Linked DNA regions of Homo sapiens. The protein of the gene in region 2 interacts with the protein of the main gene of each other region in a pairwise test. Each region holds a gene or a part of one and is shown on either strand. Other genes may lie near its edges.

Region 1 (3,500 bases), about 47 Mb from region 2:
AGAAACCCTGTCTCTACTAAAAATACAAAATTAGCTGGATGTGGTGGCACATGCCTGTAATCCTAGCTACTTAGGAGGCTGAGGCAGGAGAATTGCTTGAACCCGGGAGGCGGAGGTTGTGGTGAGCCGAGATCATGCCACTGCACTCCAGCCTGGGCAACAAGAGCAAAACTCCATCTCAAAAAAAAAAAAAAAAAAAAAATTGAAAACCTCTACATATGGGGGAAAAACCCCATTTGAGAGGCAAAAGCAGGCTAGAAAAAGTATGTGCAGACAATGTCAGAAAAGTTTAAGGTTAATATCTTTTATTATAAAAAGACACTCATGTATAAATAACCCAGACTAAATGACCCAGTAAAAATATTAATGACATAATTTATAAAATATAAGAACATATTTTTAAAGTTTAACCTTACTAGCAATTGGAGAAAAAAGATGCAAATCTTAAAAAAAAAAAAAAAAAAAAAAAAAGAGTTATCATTATTTTCCCATAGATGCTTTAAAAAACCAACTACGGAATACTCAAAATAGTATATTTCCAGCCTATTTACATCAGTAACCTATCTATTTCTATAACCTAACTATGACCAAAGGAAAAGAATTAAAATTCAGATTAAATAAAACTAAACTGCGGTGTTTGTTCTCTTGTATAAGCAGCAGGTATAGTGAGAGGAGAAGAAAATTTCCCAATAGAATAATTTAAGATTTAAATATTCTAAATGTAATTAATAATGTTAATAATTTTTCTAATCTCAGTCTCTTCATAATCATGCTTACATTTTACTACTCAATATTATTTGTCAGGGTTAGTATTTGGGAAATAATGTAGAATTAAGCTCTCAAATATACTATGCAATTGTTTTTTAACTTGCTCAAATGCTCAAGAACCAAAAATAAAAATAAAAGTACATTTTAATTTTATAATTCAAAATGTCTGTATTTTTCCCTACTAAAAATATGCCACACTCTTAAAATAAGATACAACTATTAAAACAACAGTAATATTGTGCTACCAATTTAAACTAAGGTTAGGCCAAGGAGAACATGCTAATTAAATTAAAAGAGTGTCAAACTCCAGGCTTCTAACAGAAGTCTCATAAATTCATGCTATAATCAACAATAAATACTATAATCAACATACACATGAGAAGCACCACATTTTCTATATGTGATTAGTCTTACATATTTGACGAGTTGATATAAACAAGGAAATTTAGTTTTCCTTTCATTCTAGAACGTCAGTTGTGTGTCTCTATGAAACCAAACACCTAAATAGTCAACTTTTTCTTTACCTGAAGAATCACCTCTTCTAATTGACCGCCTTGAAGTTGGTCTTCTAATTTTTTAACATCTGGTTCCTATAATTTCAGGGAGAAAAAAAATTAAAGAAGCATACTAACTGAATGTTTCAATATCCTATATATTTTAAAATTCCTATATAAAAACACTTAAAAATACAACTTTTCTTTCATCATACTCTTTTTACTAAATATTTGGTGAAAATTCATTTCACCTCTGCTATTTCATTGCTTTTCTGTCTTAATATTGAAAAGTGCTAAATGTTTATTGACATGCTGATCAAGGGACAGAAATACAATGTCAAATTCAGTCTTCCTAAAACAGATTTTAAAATATGACTTTGCTTTCTTAATATTTCCTGTATTTCCTCTGAGAGCATTAGAATTAGAAATAAATGCTACTCTATGACCCAGAAATTACACTTCTAGGCATAATGCCAAACAGAAATGCATAATATATTTTTTAAAAAACATGTTTGAGAATATTCACAGCAGCACAAATTATAGCCCCAAACTAGAAATAACCCAAATGATCATCTGTAATAGAATGGATCAATTAATTATAATATTTGGATATAATACTTCACAGCAATGAAAATGAATAAACTGTATGCAACAATATAGGTGATTCTCTTAACCACAGTATTAAGCACAAGCCAGAGTACAGTATGTATAAGACAGTACATACTAATGATTTCATTTATATAAAATTCAAAAACAGGCAAAAAGAAGTCCAAATAGAGATTAACTTTACAAGTAGTAAATTGAAGGGGAAGAGGCAAGGGTTTTGTTGTTCTGGAAAAGTCCTTTTTTTCTACACATTTGTAATGTATATAATTATTTAATAGAAGTTTTTAAGAACAAAATGTTAATAAATATAGTACCTAGAACATTCAATGACATTTAGTTATTTTCTAGTAAACTGAGCTTTTTGAGCCAGAAATCATGCTCTGTAAATATACCCACATATGTAAATAAGGCTTTGTCTTTTCAGGGTGTTTTTCTGGCCAATAAATGGAATAAAGAGGGAGAAAATAATACATTTTGCTTTTCAACACAAGACGTGATATGTTACTGCCTCAGGGTATCTTGCTGGATGGCCCAGGGTATCTGCATCACTTGTTTCTTCACCACTTTTCAAATCTTTGCTCAAATAACACCTTCTTATTGATTAACTACTGATAATTTGCATTATGATAGGCTGAAAAATACCACAAAAGATATACATGTATTAATTTCTAGAAACTGTGAGTGTTACTTTATACAGCAAAGACTTCACATATATGATCAAGTTAAGGATGCTGACATGGGGAGATTTTCCTGAATTATCCATATAGTCCCTAACTGCAATTATAAGTGTCCTTATAAGAGAGAGGCAGAGGGATATTACACACAGAAAAGGAAAAGGTAATGTAACCACAAAGGCAGAAATTGCAGTGATGAGACCACAAGCCAATAAATGCCAAAAGCCACCAGAAGCTGAAAGAGGCAAGAACAGATTCTACCCAATATCCTCCAAAGGAAGCACAGCCCTGACAACACCATCTTGATTTGGGTCCCTGATGTTGATTTCCAACTTCTGGCCTCCAGAAGTCTAATAAAATAAACTTACATTGTTTTAAGCCACCAAGTTTGTGGGAATATTACAGCAGCCATACGAAATTAATACATAGTGTAACATCCCCTATCCCCACCATGGCACACATTTTCCTTGTTTTATTTTCCTTCACTGCACTTACTATTTTCTAACACACTATGTACGTCTTTACTCAGTTTTTACTTTTTTTTTTTCTTTTGGTCTCCCATCACTAACATGTAATCTCCAAGAAGGAAAGGATTTTTATCTGTTTTGTGCCAACTAGGCACAAGTTTCCATGCCTAGAACCATACATGGCATTCAATAAATGTTTCTTGGTTAAAGAAGTGAATACATAAAAAACAGCTGAAAGGGGGAGAAAAGGGGAAAAAGTAATAAGCATGTTTAAGACAGATTATTTAACAGGGAATTAACTCATATGAGAGACCAAAAATCAAAAACAAAACAGGGAAGCTGGTCACTGTTATAAGAGACTCAGGAGAGTGAAGGTAAAGAAGGCAAGGAAAGTTCAACGACACTTTCATTTCAGAAAAAGCCTGTGTTAGGTGAACAGTTCAAAATTTGTCTTACCGATAGTGAATAATGTGATTTTTAGTCACCAATGG
Region 2 (3,500 bases):
TGGGTCCCACTCACCAAAATGGGCTTTCTCTCTCCAAAGACAGGTACCCTTCCAAAGGTTAAGAAGCCCAAGAGTTTATTTGGAATAATTTTATTGTTTTAATGTTATGTTAAAAATCTAAATTATGTAAGAACACTCTCTTTCCTATTCACAACCAAAACTTTTTTTTTTTTTTAGAGACAGAGTCTCACACTGTCACCCAGGCTGGAGTGCAGTGGTATGACCTCAGCTCACTGCAACCTCTGCCTCTTGGGTTCAAGTGATTCTCCTACCTCAGCCTCTCTAGTAGCTGGGATTACAGGCATGCGCCACCATGCCCAGCTAATTTTTGTTATTTTTAGTACAGATGGGATTTCACCATGTTGAGCAGGCTGGTCTTGAACTCCTGACCTCAAGTGATCAACCCACCTCGACCTCCCAAAGTGCTGGGATTACAGGCGTGAGCCACTACATCCGGCCCATAACCAAAACTTAATGCCATGCAGCACATATTAGTAGTATTCAACTCAGGTAAAGAAAAGTCTATTTCTGTAGGACACACACTTAACAAGTGAAATGCTGGGAGCAATTTAACTAAGACTTCACCAGTTCTTTAAACAGAAAGAAAAGACTCATGCACATGGTCTTTTAAGATTTACAATTTTTATTTTTTCTACAAAATCATGGTAGCAAACCAATTATTTATAACTATTTACCTTAAAATTAAAGCTTTCTTTTGGGAATTTTTTTTCTTTTTTTCAAGATGGAGTCTTGCTCTGTCACCCAGGCTGGAGTGCAGTGGTGCAATCTCAACTCCCTGCAACCTCCACCTCCCAGGTTCAAGTAATTCTCCGGCCTCAGCCTCCCAAGTAGCTAGGATTACAGGTGCATGCCACCATGCCCAGCTAATTTTTTGTATTTTTAGTAGAGACAAGTTTCACCATGTTGGTCAGGCTGGTCTCCAACTCCTGACCTCATGGTCCACCTGCCTCAGCCTCCCAAAGTGCTGGGATTACAGGCGTGAGCCACCGTGCCTGACCCAGGGAATTTTTTAAATCAGTTTTCGTGTAACTAATTTTCTACCACTCAAATTCATAAATTCATTTAGCAAAATATCAAAATTTTCAAGATTTCTACAAATGACAATTTTAAGTAAAATAATATGTTTTGGTAGTTAATCAAAATGATAGCTGACACCTAAAATGGAATTTGGGGAAGATACAGAAAAATAATTCTGAGAGGAGAGGCCATAAGGCAGCTGGTATTGGTAGCCTTTGTAGAAAGGCAACATTTAGCTGCATTATAATTATAGACCGGGCTGGGTGTGGTGGCTCACACCTGTAATCCCAGTACTTTGGGAGGCCAAGATGGGCAGACTGCTTGAGTCCAGGAGCTCAAGACCAGCCTGGACAACATGGCAACACCCCGTTCCTACAAAAAACGGTACAAAAAAATAGCCAGGTGTGGTAGCATGCTCCTGTAGTCCCAACTACTTGGGTGGCTGGGGCTGGAGGGTCGCTTTAGCCTGTGAGGTGGAGGCTGCAGTGAGCCATGCTCCAGCCTGGGTGACAGAGTGAGACCTTGCCTCAAAAAAAAAAAAAACAAAAAACAAGCAATCAAACGCACACATAATTATAGACTGGAATATCTGGTAAAACACTAAGTAACTTTCAAAAGAAGGCAAAGAGAAGATAACGTTTTATATCATTTAAAAGTAGTATTTCCCTTTGACTACCGAGCATAGAAAGTGGTCCTTGAGGCTGGGCACGGTGGCTCACGCCTGTAATCCCAGCACTTTGGGAGGCTGAGGTGGGCAGATCACCTGAAGTCAGGAGTTCGAGCTCAGCCTGGCCAACATGGTGAAACCCTGTCTCTATCAAAACTACAAAAATTCACTGGGCGTGGTGGTGGGTGCCTGTAATCCCAGCTACTTGGGAGGCTGAGGCAGGAGAATCACTTGAACCTGGGAGGCAGAGGTTGCGGTGAGCCGAGATACCACACCACTGCCCACTGCACTCCAGCCTGGGTGACAGAGCAAGACTCCGTCTCAAAAAAATTAAAATAAAATACAATAAAATAAAATAAGGTTAGGACTGCTGATATTGGGAATGGGCAAAGAAGGGAAAAGTAACTACTTTTCCCATCCAGCTCCTGACAGCCACAATGTACTGAATGTCTTGTGCTGGCGTCCCATCAGTTAAGAGCCTCATGCTGCAGGAGCTCCCCAGTCTCAACCCTGCATCCTACTCATTAGGAAACCACTACCACACAGGCGGCAAATCACTGATAATAAAGCCAGCCTTAGGGCTGAAAACGAGTCACTAGAACACCAGCAAAATTTCCATAATCCCCAAAGAGTTAACGATTTGCTCAGATTTCAAGTAAATTGTTCTTATTTATTTGGGTGAACATTATACAGTGTTCAAGTTCCATAACTTTTTAAGTGGAAATACAGTACAAACGTAGCTAAAGCTAATTCCCTTTTTTCAGTTCAGACGCTTGGAAATGAAGACAAAGGGATAGACAATTATCGCTGGCTGTGAGCTGTTGTGGGCACTCCATTATCGACACATTCCTGAATAGGTGCTGAATTCCAGCCAGCTGTAGTCCAGACCGGCATCACTTTTTAAAAATAACCACTTTCTCTCTTCTTCAACATAGGTGATGGCTGCACAACACGGAATGTACCCAATGCCACTCAATTGCACTTGAAATCTGATGTGACTATGTGACAGTTATGTTACGCAACTTTTACCTCGATAAAAACACATCGTTTTCTCCACTCTTTTCAATAATTTAAAGATTGGCTTAATAAATAAGGCTTCCCTGAGTACAAGAGATGAAATCCTACTCTTAGGTTTGCAGTTAATCCAGGACTGCAATGAGGATGAACATTTAGCGCCATGTTGAATCTCAGTAGAATTCAAAAAACACATAGATTTCCAAAATAATCAGAAAAAGCACTTAATATCTGCTTCAGTTACTGGGAAGGCTAACACATGAAAGGCAAGCTGTATGATCTGTATTCTTTCCACGCCCAAGAAGAGAACAATTCAAGCCACATGACTTAGAATAATGGTTGGCAGAACTCCACCTCTGAAGAGTCTACAGAGGTACCATTACTCCATTAGTGATAATAGCTATTGATCTCCTGGAAGAGCCTGGGGGGGAGGGGGAATGGAATATTTAAGATAGAAAGAATTTGAAAGTCTATTGATCCCACTAGGAATATTTAGAAAAATTATGATAGCCTTTTGCCACCTTTGCCCTCCCACCCCTCATTGAGTTAAACTGCTTAACTCAGTAACTTCAACAAAATTAGTAACCCTGAACCTTTTCTCCCCAAGGCAAGTACCAGTAGCCTATTTAAAATATTAACTTCTCAAGAGACTAGTAAAAGTCAAAGGACAAGACAGTATTGTCTAATACGTAGGATACATCTAGGTGTTCACTCTCCTTCAATACAAGACTAAACATCTGTCTTAAAAGACCTAACATTCCTCTTTCCTTCTTTTCAAAAT
Region 3 (3,500 bases), about 57 Mb from region 2:
CTCCTCTGTGAACAGGGGTACTCACTCGTGAAGCAGCTGACAAGCTTTAGAGATGCTGGCCAGGATTATACACGCAATCTGTAGCTGCAGAACAACTCATCTTTCTGATAAAAAATGACCCAAAATGGGGGTCGATAGTACAACACAAGCTTCTGCGATGGCAGCCTCTGTGTAAGAAGTATCTTGCGGTCAGGTGTGGTGGCTCACGCCTATAATCCCAGCACTTTGGGAGGCCAAGGCAGGCAGATCATGAGGTCAGAAGATCAAGGCCATCCTGGCTAACACGGTGAAACCCCATCTCTACTAAAAATATAAAAAATTAGCCAGGTATGGTGGTGGGTGCCTGTAGTCCCAGCTACTTGGGAAGCTGAAGTAGGAAAATCGCTTGAACCCAGAAGGTGGAGGTTGCAATGAGCCGAGATCGCACCACTGCACTCCAGCATGGGCAAGAGAATGAGATTCTATCTCAAAAAAAAAAAAAAAAAAAAAAAAAGTATCTTCTTCAGGAAACATATCTTTTCCTGAACCGGGCACTTGTTTAAGCAAAGCCTTTTCCTGTACAATGACCTATACCTATTATACTTGCTTTCCAGACATCTCTGGAATCTGCATCAAGGCAAATACCAAGGGCAATTTACAGAAATTATTTGTAGCAAAGAATAGTGAAATAATCCCCACACACATTGATACTGGGAATTACACCCTGAGGTCCACAGACTGAGTAGTCCGTGGGTCAATTACTCAACTGTATGCAAAACTGTCTGCTTATTGCATGGTTCTGGCCAGAATCCACAGCTTACAGATCCACAGTGCTCTATGAACTAAAAGAGCCACCATTCTAATATAAGGGGCAATCAAAAGAAGCAGGTCTGCCGATATTCAGCCCACTGAACTTGACTGTCCACCCTATTCTCTATTGCTCCTAAAGACAAATTTAAGCAAACAGAGCTTGCCAAGTTTAAATTTGTGGTACTCACCACACCAATGTGCTCCACAGAGGGGGAAAGGCCATGTGTCATCTCCTACAGTCTTCCCACTCATCTCTTCCTACCCACCTTGTTTGGTCTTATCCAAAATCCGTGCCAGAAACACTACCCACCAATCCAAAAGAAAGAATTTTCTCAGAAACAGGAGACTGGGTGAGTTGGACAAAGAGAAAGTATTTCTACTCCCAGGTAACAGAGTAAAAAAAGAGGAATTCTTCAGTGGCCCTTCTAAGAGGTAAAGTTATGAGCCACATGAGACAAATAAATCAGCCTCCTGCCTCCATTAGTTTATCTTATCTTCTTCCAGATGTGTCCTAGCAAATTGATTCAAGAACTCAGACCCATTTTTTCTCTCTTGATCCTCCTTCCACTTAGCATAGGTCATTTTCTGTGTGAGTATTAGTTTGCTTCACAATTACCTTTTTAAGACATAGGCTCCAAAAACTGCCATTATTATTTGGGAGAAATTACTCCCAAATAGTTAGTTAAGAGAAAGGGGGAGAGGGAACCCATATATATGTTGATAGATATATATGAAATATGTAATGCTTAGCTTATGTCTGTGTTTCTTTACATTTGTCATTAGTAGAAACCATTATCCCTACCTTTATAAAATCCTAGATAACTTAAGATGGTAGCCAAAAACTTCATAGAATCTAAAGCTGAAAGAAACTAATCATCCACTACTTAACTAAATTTGCACAACATTCCTCAACACTCCCAAGGGCTGACCGAATTTGTAGTCTCTGATAACATACTCTCTTCAGAATCCTCAGTAATACCGCATATTAAGTAATCTCTTCATTTACGGTCTCTCAACTGCCAACACTTCCCAAAGCATGAGTTACGTTCCATATTAAGTATCCATACTGCCATAACTGGCTCCTGTGAATTTCAGCTTGCAACTTTAAAGCCCAGCTGCGGACATTCGTTTATGTCTGGAAAGCATGATAAATATATCTTTGAAAATGATACTCATTGAAGTTGACATTTGCTCCAGAAGAGTTCACTCACAGCTTTGATGTTTCAGATAAACTTGCGAAAGATAGAGTTGTAAGCACACTTTCCAAGCAGGCACAGCAGGTGCTCACAAAAATCCTATCAACCACATGTAATATGAGTAATGAAAATGCTTGGTCTTTCCTCTCTAGGAATTTATTTTAGCCTTGAGAAGAGGGCAAGGCAAAAGAGTGACCTCTCATCCAATCCATAAGAGTAGTTTCAGATTCAAAGTTGGAATCAGGTGTAAAAATATAGGTTACTTTTACAGAAGAGGGAAGAAAAGCTATCAGTTGCTAAGGATAAAGGGAAAAAACAAGACCCTACAATACCATGAAAAATAACACCTGGTAGGTGAGAAGAAATTTTAAACTTAAAATTTGAAGTAGGTCCTTTCATTGCTATTAAGGACCTCAACAATATAGAGAAACACAATCTATTAATAAATTCAGCCAGGTGTGGAGGCTCACACCTGTAATCCCAGCACTTTGGGAGGCTGAGGTGGGTAGATCACTTGAGGTCAGGAGTTTGAGACCAGCCTGGCCAACATGGTGAAACCCCCCTCTACTAAACATACAAAAAAGTTAGCAGGGCATGGTGGCACAGGCCTATAATCCTGGCTACTCAGGAGGCTGAAGCAGGAGAATCACTTGAACCTGGGAGGCAGAGGTTGCAGCAAGCTGAGATCATGCCACTGCCCTCCAGCCTGGGTGACAGAGCAAGACTCGTCTCAAATAAATAAATAAATATTCAGCATAGTTACCAAAAGCCTTATGTTGTTCACTAAATGTTATTCTTTATACATTAAGATAAATGATGACTGAGCCTGGTGGAGCGGCACATGCCCGTAGTCCCAGAGGCTGGGGCAGGAGGATAGCTTGAGCCCAGGAGTTGAGACCAGCTTGGGCAACACAGGGAGACTCCAACTCAAAAAAACCTCATAATTGCCAACATATTTATATTAAGGGAATGAACCCAAGTCATTATATGAAAAAAATAAAGGAAGATGAAATTATAGATGCTCCTTGGTTTACAACGGATTTTGCTGAAGGTAATGCCAGAAGCTGAGTTTACTGAACGCTTGTCACTTCCACACCACTGTCAAAAAATCCTAAGTCGAACCATCCTAACAGGAGACCGTCTGTACTATCTTTAACAGTGTAACAGAACACAGAATTAGCTTTCCAGCAGTGACTGCCTCTGTTGAATTAGTAAGCTTGGTAAACTTTCATTTCTTACAACCAATGACATAAATGCTAGACAACTGGTCAAAGTTGGAACGTTTTCTTCAGCCAAGCTGAACTAACCTAACTGCAGTTCAAAACTGAAGTTTGGTGCCTCATCGGCACCATGTTCTAACAAACTAAGCTAAAAACAATGGCTTATGGACATACTGAGAATGCGGTTTCTTATCCTTCCCCATGTCTCAGAAGGGAACAAAGTGACTATTTAAAGCCAAGAAAAATATAAAGAAATAAAAACCATCTACAACAGACCTAGACAAAAAAACACCCT
Region 4 (3,282 bases), about 74 Mb from region 2:
CTGTCTTGCAGGTGACTCAGATATTGCTGGGGGTTGTGAGTTGTGTTCTTGGAGTGTGTCTCAGCTTGGGGCCCTGGACTGTGCTGAGTGCCTCAGGCTGTGCCTTCTGGGCGGGGTCTGTGGTGAGTAAGGAACAGGCTGTGAGCCTGGAGGGAGGCAAGTGGTGATGGGCAAGAAGGCGCTTATGGATCTTGGTTGGGGCTTTGGGGAAGCGACCAAAGTCTCTGGAGCCAAATGGCCTTTGGCCATGAGGAGGCTGCTCTGGGGTGTAGCTAAAACCCTGTCACTTCCATTTTTCTCTTGAAGACAGATGGGAGGGGTGGGGCAGGTATAGGTGGAATCCTGGTCTGTGTGTCAGAGTTCTTTGTCTGTCCCTGGGATCCTGCTTCACATTGGCTATTCTGGGAACTGCTGGTGGGAGGGTGATGATAGACCAATTCAGAAGAGTAAACTGGAGGCCTTTTTCTGGTGTCTCTTTTCAGGTGATCGCAGCAGGAGCTGGGGCCATTGTCCATGAGAAGCACCCGGGCAAACTTGCTGTGAGTCTTGGACACCCTCTCTCCACCTTGTTCACTGACCCCCTCCTGAATTCTGCTCCATTATCTGTCTTCTGCCCTTTGGTTGTCAATATCTTGGGGTCTTTCTTGGAGGGGAGGAGAGGGTTTCCTGGACAAGGGCTGGGGAAGAGGAGAGGGATTTGAGGCGGGGACCTCATGACTCTTCCACCGATTGAAGGAGCGTGTGTCATGACCCTCTTTCTCTTCCAGGGCTATATATCCAGCCTGCTCACCCTGGCAGGCTTTGCTACAGCTATGGCTGCTGTTGTCCTCTGCGTGAATAGCTTCATCTGGCAAACTGAACCCTTTTTATACATCGACACTGTGTGTGATCGCTCAGACCCTGTCTTCCCTACCACTGGGTACAGATGGATGCGGCGAAGTCAAGAGAACCAATGGCAGAAGGAGGAGTGTAGAGCTTACATGCAGATGCTGAGGGTGAGCAGGAAGAGTCCAGTCTTCGGGGACCCATCACAGCTCTTTTTTCCCAGGGAGCTGGGGGCCCTGGAGGACAGAGATGTAGGCTCTTTGAGCTTGGACTTCATGCTGGGTCTTTCATTCAGGAGGTTTTAATGTAAGCTACAGACATTTTTCAGACCTCATGACACGAAGATTCTCTGAATCAAGGAGGGTGAGGAACAAAGAGGAGACATTTCAGAGAGGAGATAGTGGGTCACCCTTCTGGCTTTTCTGGTGTGTTGGTATCACAGTTTTCCATTACTGAATTAAAAACCACACCAAAATGTAGTGGCTTAAAATGACAACTTATTATTTCTCACGGTGCTGTGAGTTGGCTGGATTCAGATGAGCCATTCTCACTCACGGGTTTTCTCATGCAGTTACAGTCAGATGGGGGTGAAGTTATCCAAGTGCTCGCCGAGGCTGGAGGTCTGAGATGATGTAGTTGCATGGTCCGGAGCTCAGCGGGGGCTGTCAGCAAGAGCCGGCAATGGCTTCTCCACTTGGCTTGGGCTTCTCATAGCACAGAAACTGGATTCCAATGGGGAGTACCCTAGTTGCAAGCATTTCAGGAGACAGAAAGTAGAAGCTGCCAGACCAGCTAAGGGCTTCCCTGTCACTGTATAGTGTCACTTTCACTGTGGCCAAAGCAGTTCTAGGCCCTTCCAGATTCTACGGGTTGAAGGAATAGTCTCCACTTCTTGACAGGGAGTGATAAGTTCACTCTGCAGACAAGCCAACGGGATGGAAGCTGTGGCTGGAAACACAGTCAGCTGTGGTGGGAGCAGCAAGCTGGATAGAGTCAGTGCCTGGGTGGGTGGAGAGGGTGGTGATGTGGGCAGCATTGGAGTAGCTGACACCTGACTATCTTTGTTCTTCCCTTATCTCCAGAAGTTGTTCACAGCAATCCGTGCCCTGTTCCTGGCTGTCTGTGTCTTGAAGGTCATTGTGTCCTTGGTTTCCTTGGGAGTAGGTCTTCGAAACTTGTGTGGCCAGAGCTCCCAGCCCCTGGTGAGTTGTCGGGGAGGGGCCTCTGGGCAGCGTGAGTCTGGGTGGTGAGTGTGTGGGACAGGTAGGAGTGCGGGGCCAGGGGCACCCGAACCTGAGGCTGGGCCTGGTGCCCCTCAGCTTCTTTCCATATGCAGCTCTCCCCTTTGCTGTCTGGGGAATGTGGCCATCACCATGGTCCTGGGCCAACTGTCGCCGCCCTGTGCCTCTCTGCGCCCTCCTCTGCTCTGATCTCCCCACTCTCCCCTCTGCCCTGTCCCAGGTGTTCGTCTGACTCCCCTTCCTCTGCCACCTTGTTTTTTTTTTGCCTGATCTGCTTTTCCTGTCACCTTTTCCTTTCCCTCCTCCTTTCCTCTTTCTGCTTTCTGAGTTCTATGATACTAACTCTGCCTGCATCCTTTTCCCCTAAGGATTTCTTTTTTCTTTTTTTTCCAGAATGAGGAAGGATCAGAGAAGAGGCTACTGGGGGAGAATTCAGTGCCCCCTTCGCCCTCTAGGGAGCAGACCTCCACTGCCATTGTCCTGTGAGCTGCCAAAGACCCCACGGGGTGCCCGCATGTCCCTGTCTAGGGCAGCCCAGGGCCCCCACTCCTGGCTCCTCACACTTGCCTCCCCTATGGCCGCTCTCCAGACCCTCCTCCTTTCTTCTCCCCACATCCGCACCTGCTGTTCCCACTCTGGGGTTCTCAAGTCCATGAACAGATATTGTTGCATTTTCCACAATGCTGATTAAACATAATAAACAATCCAGAAAAGCAGTTTTGCCCAGAAAGATATGGTTTCCCTTTGTTTATACACCTCGTGCGCCATGAAAGGCCTTTCTTTGTGTCGCTATGTATGAGGTTAAATGGGAGCTGATTTATCCCATTAAAACACTGTCCCAAGAAGATTAAATTTAATTATGTTCTGCTGTACATCCAGGTGGCAAAACCCCTTTTTATGATTTTCTTCAATTCAGTGTAAAGTGTAAGTCTAGTGGGCCTAGAATCTTCTTACCTGCTGAGATTGTCTAGGCTCCTACAACCTCGGCCTGTAGACTTAAGAGAACTGTGTGGAGCATGGAATGAGATTTTTGCCCCCTCCCTCCCTGTCTTCCTTCCTTTCTCTTTTTTCGTTTTGCAGTAATTAGTGTTGGTTCTGTCTCTTTTCCTGTCTCCACACACACATAAACACATCCTTAGTCTTCCTTCCTTTCATTGTAAATGATAGCAAACTGATTTTGACTTTTTCCATTTTCTTTATATATGAAGATATAACA
Region 5 (3,500 bases), on a different chromosome or scaffold from region 2:
AGGTGGAGGTTGCAGTGAGCTGTGATTGTGACACTGCACTCCAGCCTGGGCAACAGAGACCCTGTCTCAAAAAAAAAAAAAAATTGCTCTGACTATTCTAGGTCATTTGCACATCCATAAATTTTAGAATTATCTTGTCAATGTCTCTGAAAGGACCCGCTGGGATTTTGGATTGTAATCGTGTTGGCTATTGTGAGACTTTTCTCAAAAAGGAATTAATGAGGCCTGGATCTCATTTCCTGTAGGCATTAAAGAAAATTCCACTAAGATGTGTGACTGTAGGCCAAAGGTCACTAACTCAGTAAGTGAGGCAGGTAAGGAAAATGAATGGAGGGGCCAGGAATGAGATGATCATGGCAGCTGATCCTGGGCCATCGTGAAGGGATAATAGGGTACAGTGAGGACTTGGCAAACACGATCTAAGGGGGTGGCCTCTTCTCAGCTTCATCCAGCGATGCCATGCAAGAACATGGGTTCAGTGTTGTCTGATCTTTCAATCAGGAGAAGTTGGAAATCCATATTTTTATGCAGTGTCCTGATTTTTTCAATTGAAATTTAATACACTGAATGGGTCAACATCTGGTGGGTAAACAGAACACTCTAGGTGAAATGTGGCCTATGGGCTGCCAGTCTGTGACCTCGGCCTTAGGCTAATCATTCTTTGGTTCACATGTTCATCATCTGTAAACATGAAGGTGTTGAAGACAGTCTCAAAGTTCTTTTTCTAGCTCAATGAGTCTAAATTTCAAAAGAGGAAAATGTCAAAATAACTCAGAGTTTGAAGAGGTAGCTGAGATCAGCAATAATGATAATATCTTAAGTTGACCAGAGCTTTACATTTGACATACCACTCTTGTGTCTGTGTCATTTAATCCTCACTTTATCTTGTGCAGGAGGCGTCAGAGTTGTTTGCCCAACCACACGGGAGTTGCAGGTTACAAAGTCACATCATCCGATTCCAGGTCCAGTGCTTTTTGTTTTTTTAGAGTCTCGCTCTGTCGCCCAGGCTGGAGTGCAATGGCGCCATCTCGGCTCACGGCAAGCTCCGCCTCCCGGGTTCATGCCATTCTCCTGCTTCAGCCTCCTGAGTAGTTGGGACTGCAGGCGCCCACCACCATGCCTGGCTAATTTTTTTGTACTTTTAGTAGAGACAGGGTTTCACCGTCTTAGCCAGGATGGTCTCGATCTCCTGACCTCGTGATCCGCCCGCCTCGGCCTCCCAAAGTTCTGGGATTTACAGGTATGAGCCACTGCTCCTGGCCTTTTTTTTGAGACAGAGTCTCACTGTGTCACCCAGGCTGTAGTACAGTGGCATGATCTTGGCTCACTGCAACCTCTGCTTCCTGGGTTCAAGCAATTCTTCTGCTTCATCCTCCCAAGTAGCTAGGATTGCAGGCATGCACCACCACAGCTGGCTAATAGTTAGTAGAGACGGGGTTTCACCGTGTTGGCCAGGCTAGCCGTGTTCTTTTTTAACAGTCTTTGAAGGCTTCGGAAATAGGTGCTTTGGGAGGGAGAGCAGTTATGGGGGATTGTGAGACGGCCTTCAGCTCAGTTGAGGGCAGGTCCCTATCTGGATTTATAACTTAGTTTGGTTGAAGTGTCAAGGCTTTTGGGTAAGAGTTGAAGCCTTTGTGAGAACTCTCTGAAGGCAGGAACTTTAGCATACATTCATCTTAGTAAGCCAGTGCCTGGCATACTACCTGACACACAGTTAAGTTTTTGTATCAGTAAATCAATGGATAAATTGATCCTTCAAAAAAGAAATCAAAGGCTTTAAATCAAGATGGCTGAGAATTTTGTCCAGAGAATTTCAAGAATAGTCAGATGCTTCTGATAAGTACTTTTAGAATGTTAAGATTGAAAGCTGAGAGACTTTATTCCTATAACTCCACTCCTAGATGGAAAAAACACCATGTCGTCCTCCTCATGTTTGACTCTGAGATTTGGGTTTTGATTAATAGGTTATAACTGTCTCCCTGTGCAGTACATTTAAGAAATCAAATACAGCAGGTATAAGGGAAGTTAAAGCCACTGAAGGATTTCGTATGCCTTTAAAATTTCCAAACAAGTATAAGTCTTTATCTTTTGAGAATACATATTGAAATATGGAGTGATACCATGTCTGAAATTTCTGTCAGTGAGGCACTGCGGGTAGTGGAGAGGGTAAAGATGAAAGATGATTGTATATAAGTTGGTAATTTTTAAGCTAGAAGATGGATAGATGGGGTTTCATTATACTTGTCTTTATTTCACATATACTATTTGAAATCTTTCATAATAAATGTAAAAAGGAAATTATCAGAGAGCTTCATAGGTTCAACAATGCTTTTGGTAAACCAAACTTCACCTTTTTTTTTTTTTTGAGTTTGTAATTAGTATGATCATCGAGGGAAAGATGGGACAAAGGAAAAGAGCATGGCAGAAATGGGCATATGGGCTTTGAGGCTGACAGCCGTGGCTCAGCCTCCTGCTAGCCACGTGGCAAGTCACTGAACTTCCGAGTCTGGGTCTCCAGGTCTGTAACAGCAGGAGAGTACAGTCTCATTTGCATGGTTGTGGGGAGGATTAGGGATGAAGTGGGCCAAGTGTCCGAGAACAGCACCTGGCCCATCCTAGGGGCTTAGATCTGGTAGTGTTTTATTATTGTTAGAGACAGAGAGTGATGAAGGGTAAAAATCTGCCCCAGGGCTCTCGTCTATAACCCTTTCTTCTCTATATGAATTATAGTGCCAAGGGTTATGTAACCATGGAGCTAATTTATTATTTTAGAAACAGAACTCTTAAAGACCAGATCAGACCACTTTGAGATTTACAAGAACTGTAACCAGTTTATTGCTTTTTGAAAAATGAAGTAAGGAAGAACTTACAAAGAAAAGCATATTAAAATGGTGGGATGCCATTTTATACCTATTGAATTGACCTCCTTCCTTACCCCAATTAATGGTAATATCCAATATCAATGAGTTTTTTTGGTGAAACTTTTCTCATATGTATATTATAAACTCTTTGGGAAAGCATTTCGGCAGTATACGTTGAGAGCCACCAAAAGGCCCATATCCAGAGATTTAGTAATCACCCTTTGGAAGGTGTTCTAAGGAAATAATTCAGAAGAACTGTTATATACCCACTAAAAATTACTCTGTAATAGCATAGAAAAGGCTTATGATGAGCATGCTAGGTTGTACCTATCTTATGATCACAGCTATGCAGTTCTTACCATAAATGTAAACGGAGGCTGGAAAAGAGCATGAAGAAGGGAAAACAGCTAATGTGTTAGGGTTGTGGATAGTAGCTTAGTTTTTCTTTCAGAAATTCTTTTATTGTTGTTAAAGATTATGCCAGTGTATCCAAACATACACACTCAAAGACCTTGCAAGAGGACGTTACTATCATGGTATATGGGACATTTGGAACATGGGTAAGCTCTTTCCGAAAATAGAGTAATCAAAACCCAGAAAGCACCGGAAACCTTGAGGGTGTGATCACTTACGTCGAGA
Region 6 (4,127 bases), on a different chromosome or scaffold from region 2:
TTGTATACAGCAAACTCAACCCATCTCATTTTCTTCCCAGAAAAATTTGATTTTAAGTGAAGCTGTTCACTGTTGATTCTTTGCCCTATTTGGTAAATCCTAAGATAAGAATAAATTTCTAAAAACAATTCTGAAGCCAAAGACATGTCCCTTATGGCTCCCCATGTTTGTAGTGTCCCTGTTTGATTGACTATGAACAACACAGAAAATACACTGGAATGTATTTGGAAACGGAGTTAATTGTGTGTTGGAAAGCAGCAGAGGGCTCTCCTGACACCTCAGAGTCTCACCGTACCTTAGTTTCTTAATAGCAAGCCCCAGAGCAATCTCCTCTAGCTTTTGGGATGAGCATGTGTGGCAGGATTCATCTGCGAGTTCAGGTTGGGTGCTGACCGTTTTGTGTGATGGGTTGGATCTTCTCCAGAGAGACGTCAGTGTCATAGTCCAATATGACTGATAGGGCTGGGGACAGCTTCTCCAAGGGTCTGGCGATGCCAGCTGCCTCCTCCTTTTTCAGGTCCTCAGAGGAGCCCACAGCATGTGGGATCAGGTAAACCAGATTGCACTCCTTGGAGATGGAGCCTCGTGGCTCATGATGGCTGGAAAACATCGCGGCCCCATTGTTATTGATACTCACCGTCTCTATGGCATTATTCGTCGCAGGGCAAAGTCTGTAGCATCCTAAGAGGGTTGAAAATGCCTTCCGAAAATCAGCATTAAAGGCATAAATGATGGGGTTCAAGGATGAATTAGCCCACCCAAACCACACAAACACGTCAAAGGTGTTGGAATCAATGCAGAAGGGCTGCGTCTCCCCAGACCCACAGAAGGGCAAAATGCAGTTCAAGATGAAGAAAGGTAGCCAACAGCACACAAACACACCCATGATCACCGACAGAGTCTTCAGGACTTTAGTTTCTCTTTTGAAGGACATCTTAAAAGAACTTTCCGGTTGAGAACATTCGACAGGCTTTCCATTACCTGTGGTGGTCTGGCAATTCTTGGCGTGGACTGCTGCCCTCTCCAAGGCCGCAATGCGCCGTATTTGTTTCTGAGCAATCCTGTAGATCCTGGTGTAGGTGACAATCATGATGGCCACAGGGATGTAAAAGCTTATTACAGAGGATGAGATGGCATATGTCCTGCTGAGGCTGGAGTCACAGTTGTCTATGGTCTCAGCCAGGGAAGTGGCATTTCCATCAGAGGGGCTTGTGGGTTTTGCCTTGTGCCAGCTGAGCTGCACTGGGATGAAGGAGATGAGTACAGACAAGGTCCATGCCACACTGATCAGGATGAAGGCTGCCTTGGGGGTCATCTTTCTCTCATACCGGAAAGGGCTGGAGATAGCCCAATACCTGTCCACGCTGATCACACAGAGGTTGAGGATGGATGCAGTGGAGCACATGATGTCAAAGGCCACCCAGATGTTACAGAAGGACCCAAAGGGCCAGAAGCCAGCAATCTCAGCCACTGCCTTCCAGGGCATGACCAGGACGGCCACCAAGAGATCTGACACAGCCAAGGAGATGACAAAGAAGTTGGTCACCTTGGACCGCAGGTGTCGGAACCTGATAACGGCAGCACAGACCAGCGTGTTCCCCAGGAGCGTGGACAGGATGAGCAGCGACAGGAAACAGGCAGTGAGGATACGAACAGAGAAGTCCCTCTCCACCACCAGCCCAGTCCCGTCCATGGCAGAGGTGTTCAGAGTCCTCATCTTCCTAAGAGAAAGCACATCAGGGGCTCTGACACCCCTCAAGTTCCCAAGCAGGGAATAGGGGTCAGTCAGATTTCCAGGAGTCCTCCCCACCAGGCAGCACTTTGCACAGCCAGATTGCTTCCCTGGCAGAGGGCCTCACCAACATTCCATGAGAGGACCGCTTGAGTGGCAATCCAAGTCAATCCCGTGGATGGTCACTCTTGATTTCTACATCTGTCTTCTGACTCCCTTGCTGCAGGTCACTGTCTTGGGCACCAGAAAGCCCCTGAATTCCCCAAATAAAGCACTGGCTTTTTAGCATATTCTAAATCATCAATCCAGTGACTCCTGGGCCTCTGCTCTGCTAGTCAGTTGCAATCACATTTCGGGGCTGTTGCTTTTCTGGTGGTGACAGGAGATTCTCCCCTTCTGAGACTCAGCTGAAAATACATGTCTTCTCGCTCCTCCAAGCCCCTGGCTCCTCAGCAGCTCTCCAAACGCCTTAAAAAGCAAAAGGAAAACACACGGTCTTTCTCCAAGACTTAAGCAGATGGCATCATTACTCACGTCAAGCCCAACCTAATAATTCCCAGGGCGAGCCCGTCCGAGCCACCTACCTTGCCTTGGGGTCGTCTCTCTCAAAGCCCCTGGAGCTTGGAATGTGGACTTCGCTGGGGGCAGCGGCTCCGAAACGTTGAGGAAGCGCGCCTGAGCCCAGCCAGCTGCGCGCAGCAGGGGTTCGGCTCCCGGTGCGCAAAAATCGCCGGGGTGCGTTTGGGGAAAGGATCCCAGGCCAGGTCCCAAGAGAGGCGGCGGCAGCCCACTTCCTTGAAGAGCTGGAGATTGTTCAAAGGGCACTAGACCCCGGCTAAGGGCTCCTGGGCGCTCGGAGCTTCCTTGGGAGAGAGCACTCCCAGGACTGGTCACCTGGGCAGCTTCTTTTCTTGGCTTCCTTTCGAGAGCCCAGAGCCTTGGCGAACCTCGGGCGGCCTTCAGCCCTACAGAGCAGGGCCCCGCGCCTCCCCGCAGGCACTGCCCGCGACCTCTCAGGAGCCTGTGGCAATGCGAGGCAGCGAGCCGAGCTGGCACCAGCAAGCGCACAGGCCGGCGGGGTTCCCGCGGGGCACAGCCCACCCCGCCCGCGCGTCCCCTCCCCTGCCCTGGGGGCGGTCCTCGCTTGACAGGCAGAGTTGCGGGCGACAGCCGCACGTGGTCCCCCTGGATGGTTCTGCGGGCGAGGTGGGCGGAGGACGCCCCGGTGAGTGCTTGCCCTCCCTGGTTACCTCGCCAGTCTCCGGATCCCCGCGCAGCACGCGCAGGGCCCGCGAGGCAAATCCAATGTCAGAACCTCAAGTAAGCTTGAGTCCCCTGAAAGCAAAGCTCAGCCCCGACATCCAGCGCCTCTTGGGGTCAACCCCTAGCCGGACCCAAAGCCCTAAGCGAGCGGGAGCACCCCCCATTCCCCGCACACCAACTCCTAGAACGGCCGGCGGACGTCCGACCTGCGTTGTCTCCAAGTGTCCCCTAACTAGGGTTGGAGATGCCCGTGGGCGCCTGTACTCACCGCTCGCAGGGAGGGCGCGGCGCAGCTGGGATCCGGGCCAGCGCGCGCCGCTGCGCCCCGAGGGGACTCACTCCTTCCCCGCCCAGGTGGCGGGCGCGTCCCGGCTGCGGTCAACGCCGGACTCCAGCCGGTGCCCCGCACCTCCCGAGCGCCCCAACCCCAGCGCCGCGCGCTCCGTGTGCCCGGGGCGCCCTCTGCCGGCGGCTGCGACTTCCCGAGCGCCCGCTGTGCCCTCGCGGGCACCAACCTCACTCACAAGGGTTCCAGCGACCGCCAGGGACCCGCGCCCCGACTCGCTCTTCCCGGTCCATGACTGCCAGAACCTGAAAACAGGGAAGCGGAATCTTCTCCACTCAGGACTCCTCCGCTTGAAACACCCTGAAAAACGGACAAGGGTGAAAAATTTTACTTTGCTGGCATTGCATTCGTGAATCTATGTTTCCTCCTGCGCGCCCACTGCGTTCAAACCTGGGGCGCTAGAGCAGGCGAGACGCAAGCCTTACTCTCAAAGAGAACGGCAGAGCGGGCATTGACTCAGCAGCATCCGTGTTCCCCGGTGCACGCCTTACGTTGTTCCCCCGTTAAAAGAATCTTTCCCCGCCAGGCCGGCTCAACCCGCTTCGCCCAGGTGGAAATGCGGCTCGGAAAGGTAGTGGGGCCTGCTCAAAGTCACACAGCTCACGCGGGAGCCGCGCCGCTGCCCACCTGTTCTTTTAACTCACCGCATGTGGTACAGGAGCCCACAAACTGGAAAATTACCTACAGGGCTAAAATACAGGGAAGAGTCATATGGAGGCAGCGGGGCCTGGTGGAGAAGGAGCCCCCAGCCTCCCCTGGTTGCCCCAGGCAAGCTCACAGGTGAGA
Region 7 (2,497 bases), on a different chromosome or scaffold from region 2:
TGACATTTCATCATTTCAACCTGTGGCTTTTCCTATTTCTCAATCACTAGACTGACCAATAGTGAGATGGTTGGATTAAGGAGGTTCCAATTCTGGGGAGATGACAGAGGAAGGAGATTCATGTTCCAGAGCTTAGGAAGCAGTAGGTGTGCATTCGACCTCACTGCATCAATAACTTTTCACGTTCAAGAGATAGTTAAAATAGTAAAAGCTTCCTTTCTTTCTGCTCTGTGGATTTCACAAATGGGATCGTTAGACTTGAACTTTTTTGCTTTTTTAAAGTAGCCAAACATGATCACATGATGGACTTGAACTTTTCAAAACCCATTCTGATACTTCTAGGATTGCTTTGTGTAAAATCTATTGGCTGTGTTTATAGTTACCTGGCTGTAGAAAGAAAAATTTACATGTTTAAATAGCTAAAATTTCCACAATGAAGGAATAAGCCTCCCAGAGACATTAAGAAAAAGGAAACCAAGCCAGCAAAGATATAAACCATATTTCTGTTCCTAACACAAATGTGAATTTATTGGTTGATTTGATATTTAAAATAGTACTTTTACAAAATCATCTCAGAAAATATACTACATTTATTAAAATTCCTACAAACCATTGCAGAAAATATTAAACCCTCTAACCAACCTAACACTCGCTTTCAGAGGCACTTGTGATGATTTTCACAGCTTCCATAGTTGCAAAGAACAAAGAAATCATCTTCCAACAGGGGTGGAATTAGATAAGAATAATCCAAAAAATATTTATTTCTTTACAGACTCACAGATTGCTTGATGTTTAGGGGCTCTTACCTAGGATACCTAATTATTCAAGGTTTTCCTAATTTAGTAGACTTTTTCATTGCCTACAATCTACAATATTCAGCAAAGTATTAAGGAAAATGAACCCAAGAACCTTAACCACCTCAAATAGTTTTATGGATATACTAAACTGTCAAGTACAATCTTTATCTTAAGACTTGAGAACTGGAATGCAGGAAAACAAACTTTGGTGGAATACTGGAATAAAAGACATAAAGCTGGGCAGAACTAGGTGTGGCAACCTTGTATGTTAATTCTGAAAGCCAGACCAGTGACGCTAAGAATAACAAATAGATTCAGATTTGTTTTTCAGAAACTTGAGCTATTTCGGCCAGGTGCACTGTCTCACACCTGTAATCCCAACAATTTAGGAGGTCAAGGTGGGAGAATCACTTGAGCCCAGGAGTTCAAGACCGGCCTAGGCAACACAGTGAGACCCTGTCTCCCTGTCTCTACTTCTTTTTTTTTTTTTTTTTTTTTTTGAGACGGAGTCTTGCTCTTGTCACCCAGGCTAGAGTACAATGGCATGATCTCGGTTCACTGCAACCTTCGCCTTCTGGGTTCAAGAGATTCTCCTGCCTCAGCCTTCCAAGTACCTGGGATTACAGGCACCCACCACCACGCCTGGCTAATTTTTTTTTTTTTTTGTATCTTTAGTAGGGTTTTGCCATGTTGGCCAGGCTGGTCTTTAACTCCTACCTCGTGATCCACCCGCCTCGGCCTCCCAAAGTGCTAGGATTACAGGCGTGAGCCACCACGCCCAGCCCCCTGTCTCTTTTTTTAAAACACAATTTAAAAGCAGAAAGAAAAAATCTGTGCTGTTTAGACTCAGATTCTTAATTAGCTAGTATTTCTTAATTCAATCAATAAATTATTAAGACCTTTTCACTGCTCCCTTTTTAAAGTCTTCTTTGGAGTGATTTAAGTGCTTCTTATTACCAAGCTCTCAAAGAGAAGATAAAATTAAAATCTGATGGGTAACCATTTAAATAAGACAACTGGGGTAACCCATTTCTCCAGGACCCCTCTCTGCAACAGAGAGCTATTCTCTTTCTTTGGCCTAGTAAACCTCTGCTCTTAACCTTAAAAAAAAAAAAAAAAAAGCAATTGGAAAAAATTTCAAGTCAATGAATAAAATAAGATTTGGGGATAATGGTAGATGCTAATTATGAAAGTCGACTGTTTCCTTTGAAGGGGGAGTTCAAAGCTGTTTTTTTGATGTGAATTCTTTGGGAGACAATAGAAAATGGCTAAATAGGATATAACAGAAACTTTTAAGGATGGAATTCAACTTTACCTAAAAAAGGTTTCAGGCCAGGCATGGTGGCTGACGTCTGTAATCACAGCACTTTGGGAGGCCGAGGCAGGCAGATCACCTGAGGTCAGGAATTTGAGACCAGACTGACCAACGTGGGGAAACACCATCTCTACTAAAAGTACAAAATTAGCCGGCGTGGTGACGCATGCCTGTAATACCAGCTACTCAGGAGGCTGAGGCAGGTGAATCACTTGAACCCGGGAGGTGGAGGTTGTGGTAAGCTGAGATCACAGCATTGCACTCCAGCCTGGGCAACAAGAGCGAAAACTCCGTCTCAAAACAAAACAAAAAAACCTTAAGCTGGGTGCGGTTGCTCACGCCTGTCATCCCAGCACTTTGGGAGGCTGAGGTGGGTGGATTGCCT

What was found.
Region 1: the proteins of YWHAG (region 2) and NDUFA5 interact in binary tests that used the Homo sapiens proteins (3 or more experiments, as listed by UniProt).
Region 3: the proteins of YWHAG (region 2) and CHCHD3 interact in binary tests that used the Homo sapiens proteins (3 or more experiments, as listed by UniProt).
Region 4: the proteins of YWHAG (region 2) and TMEM176B interact in binary tests that used the Homo sapiens proteins (3 or more experiments, as listed by UniProt).
Region 5: the proteins of YWHAG (region 2) and CRTC3 interact in binary tests that used the Homo sapiens proteins (3 or more experiments, as listed by UniProt).
Region 6: the proteins of YWHAG (region 2) and DRD1 interact in binary tests that used the Homo sapiens proteins (3 or more experiments, as listed by UniProt).
Region 7: the proteins of YWHAG (region 2) and TMT1A interact in binary tests that used the Homo sapiens proteins (3 or more experiments, as listed by UniProt).

The regions. Positions count from the first base shown.
Region 1 is NC_000007.14:123,544,319-123,547,818, forward strand, and holds part of NDUFA5 (NADH dehydrogenase [ubiquinone] 1 alpha subcomplex subunit 5), read right to left. Parts: intron 2,500-3,500; exon of another isoform or gene 2,340-2,499; intron 1,359-2,339; coding exon 1,293-1,358; intron 1-1,292. UniProt on the Homo sapiens protein: Accessory subunit of the mitochondrial membrane respiratory chain NADH dehydrogenase (Complex I), that is believed not to be involved in catalysis. Complex I functions in the transfer of electrons from NADH to the respiratory chain.
Region 2 is NC_000007.14:76,352,492-76,355,991, forward strand, and holds part of YWHAG (14-3-3 protein gamma), read right to left. Parts: intron 1-3,500. UniProt on the Homo sapiens protein: Adapter protein implicated in the regulation of a large spectrum of both general and specialized signaling pathways. Binds to a large number of partners, usually by recognition of a phosphoserine or phosphothreonine motif.
Region 3 is NC_000007.14:133,075,591-133,079,090, forward strand, and holds part of CHCHD3 (MICOS complex subunit MIC19), read right to left. Parts: intron 1-3,500. UniProt on the Homo sapiens protein: Component of the MICOS complex, a large protein complex of the mitochondrial inner membrane that plays crucial roles in the maintenance of crista junctions, inner membrane architecture, and formation of contact sites to the outer membrane.
Region 4 is NC_000007.14:150,790,801-150,794,082, reverse strand, and holds the end of TMEM176B (transmembrane protein 176B), read left to right. Parts: intron 1-11; coding exon 12-122; intron 123-482; coding exon 483-539; intron 540-767; coding exon 768-995; intron 996-1,907; coding exon 1,908-2,027; intron 2,028-2,459; coding exon 2,460-2,552; 3' UTR 2,553-2,782; downstream 2,783-3,282. UniProt on the Homo sapiens protein: May play a role in the process of maturation of dendritic cells. Required for the development of cerebellar granule cells.
Region 5 is NC_000015.10:90,536,423-90,539,922, forward strand, and holds part of CRTC3 (CREB-regulated transcription coactivator 3), read left to right. Parts: intron 1-3,500. UniProt on the Homo sapiens protein: Transcriptional coactivator for CREB1 which activates transcription through both consensus and variant cAMP response element (CRE) sites.
Region 6 is NC_000005.10:175,441,383-175,445,509, forward strand, and holds the start of DRD1 (D(1A) dopamine receptor), read right to left. Parts: upstream 2,801-4,127; 5' UTR 2,317-2,800; intron 2,201-2,316; 5' UTR 1,718-2,200; coding exon 377-1,717; 3' UTR 1-376.
Region 7 is NC_000012.12:50,930,512-50,933,008, reverse strand, and holds the end of TMT1A (thiol S-methyltransferase TMT1A precursor), read right to left. Parts: 3' UTR 501-2,497; downstream 1-500. UniProt on the Homo sapiens protein: Thiol S-methyltransferase that catalyzes the transfer of a methyl group from S-adenosyl-L-methionine to alkyl and phenolic thiol-containing acceptor substrates.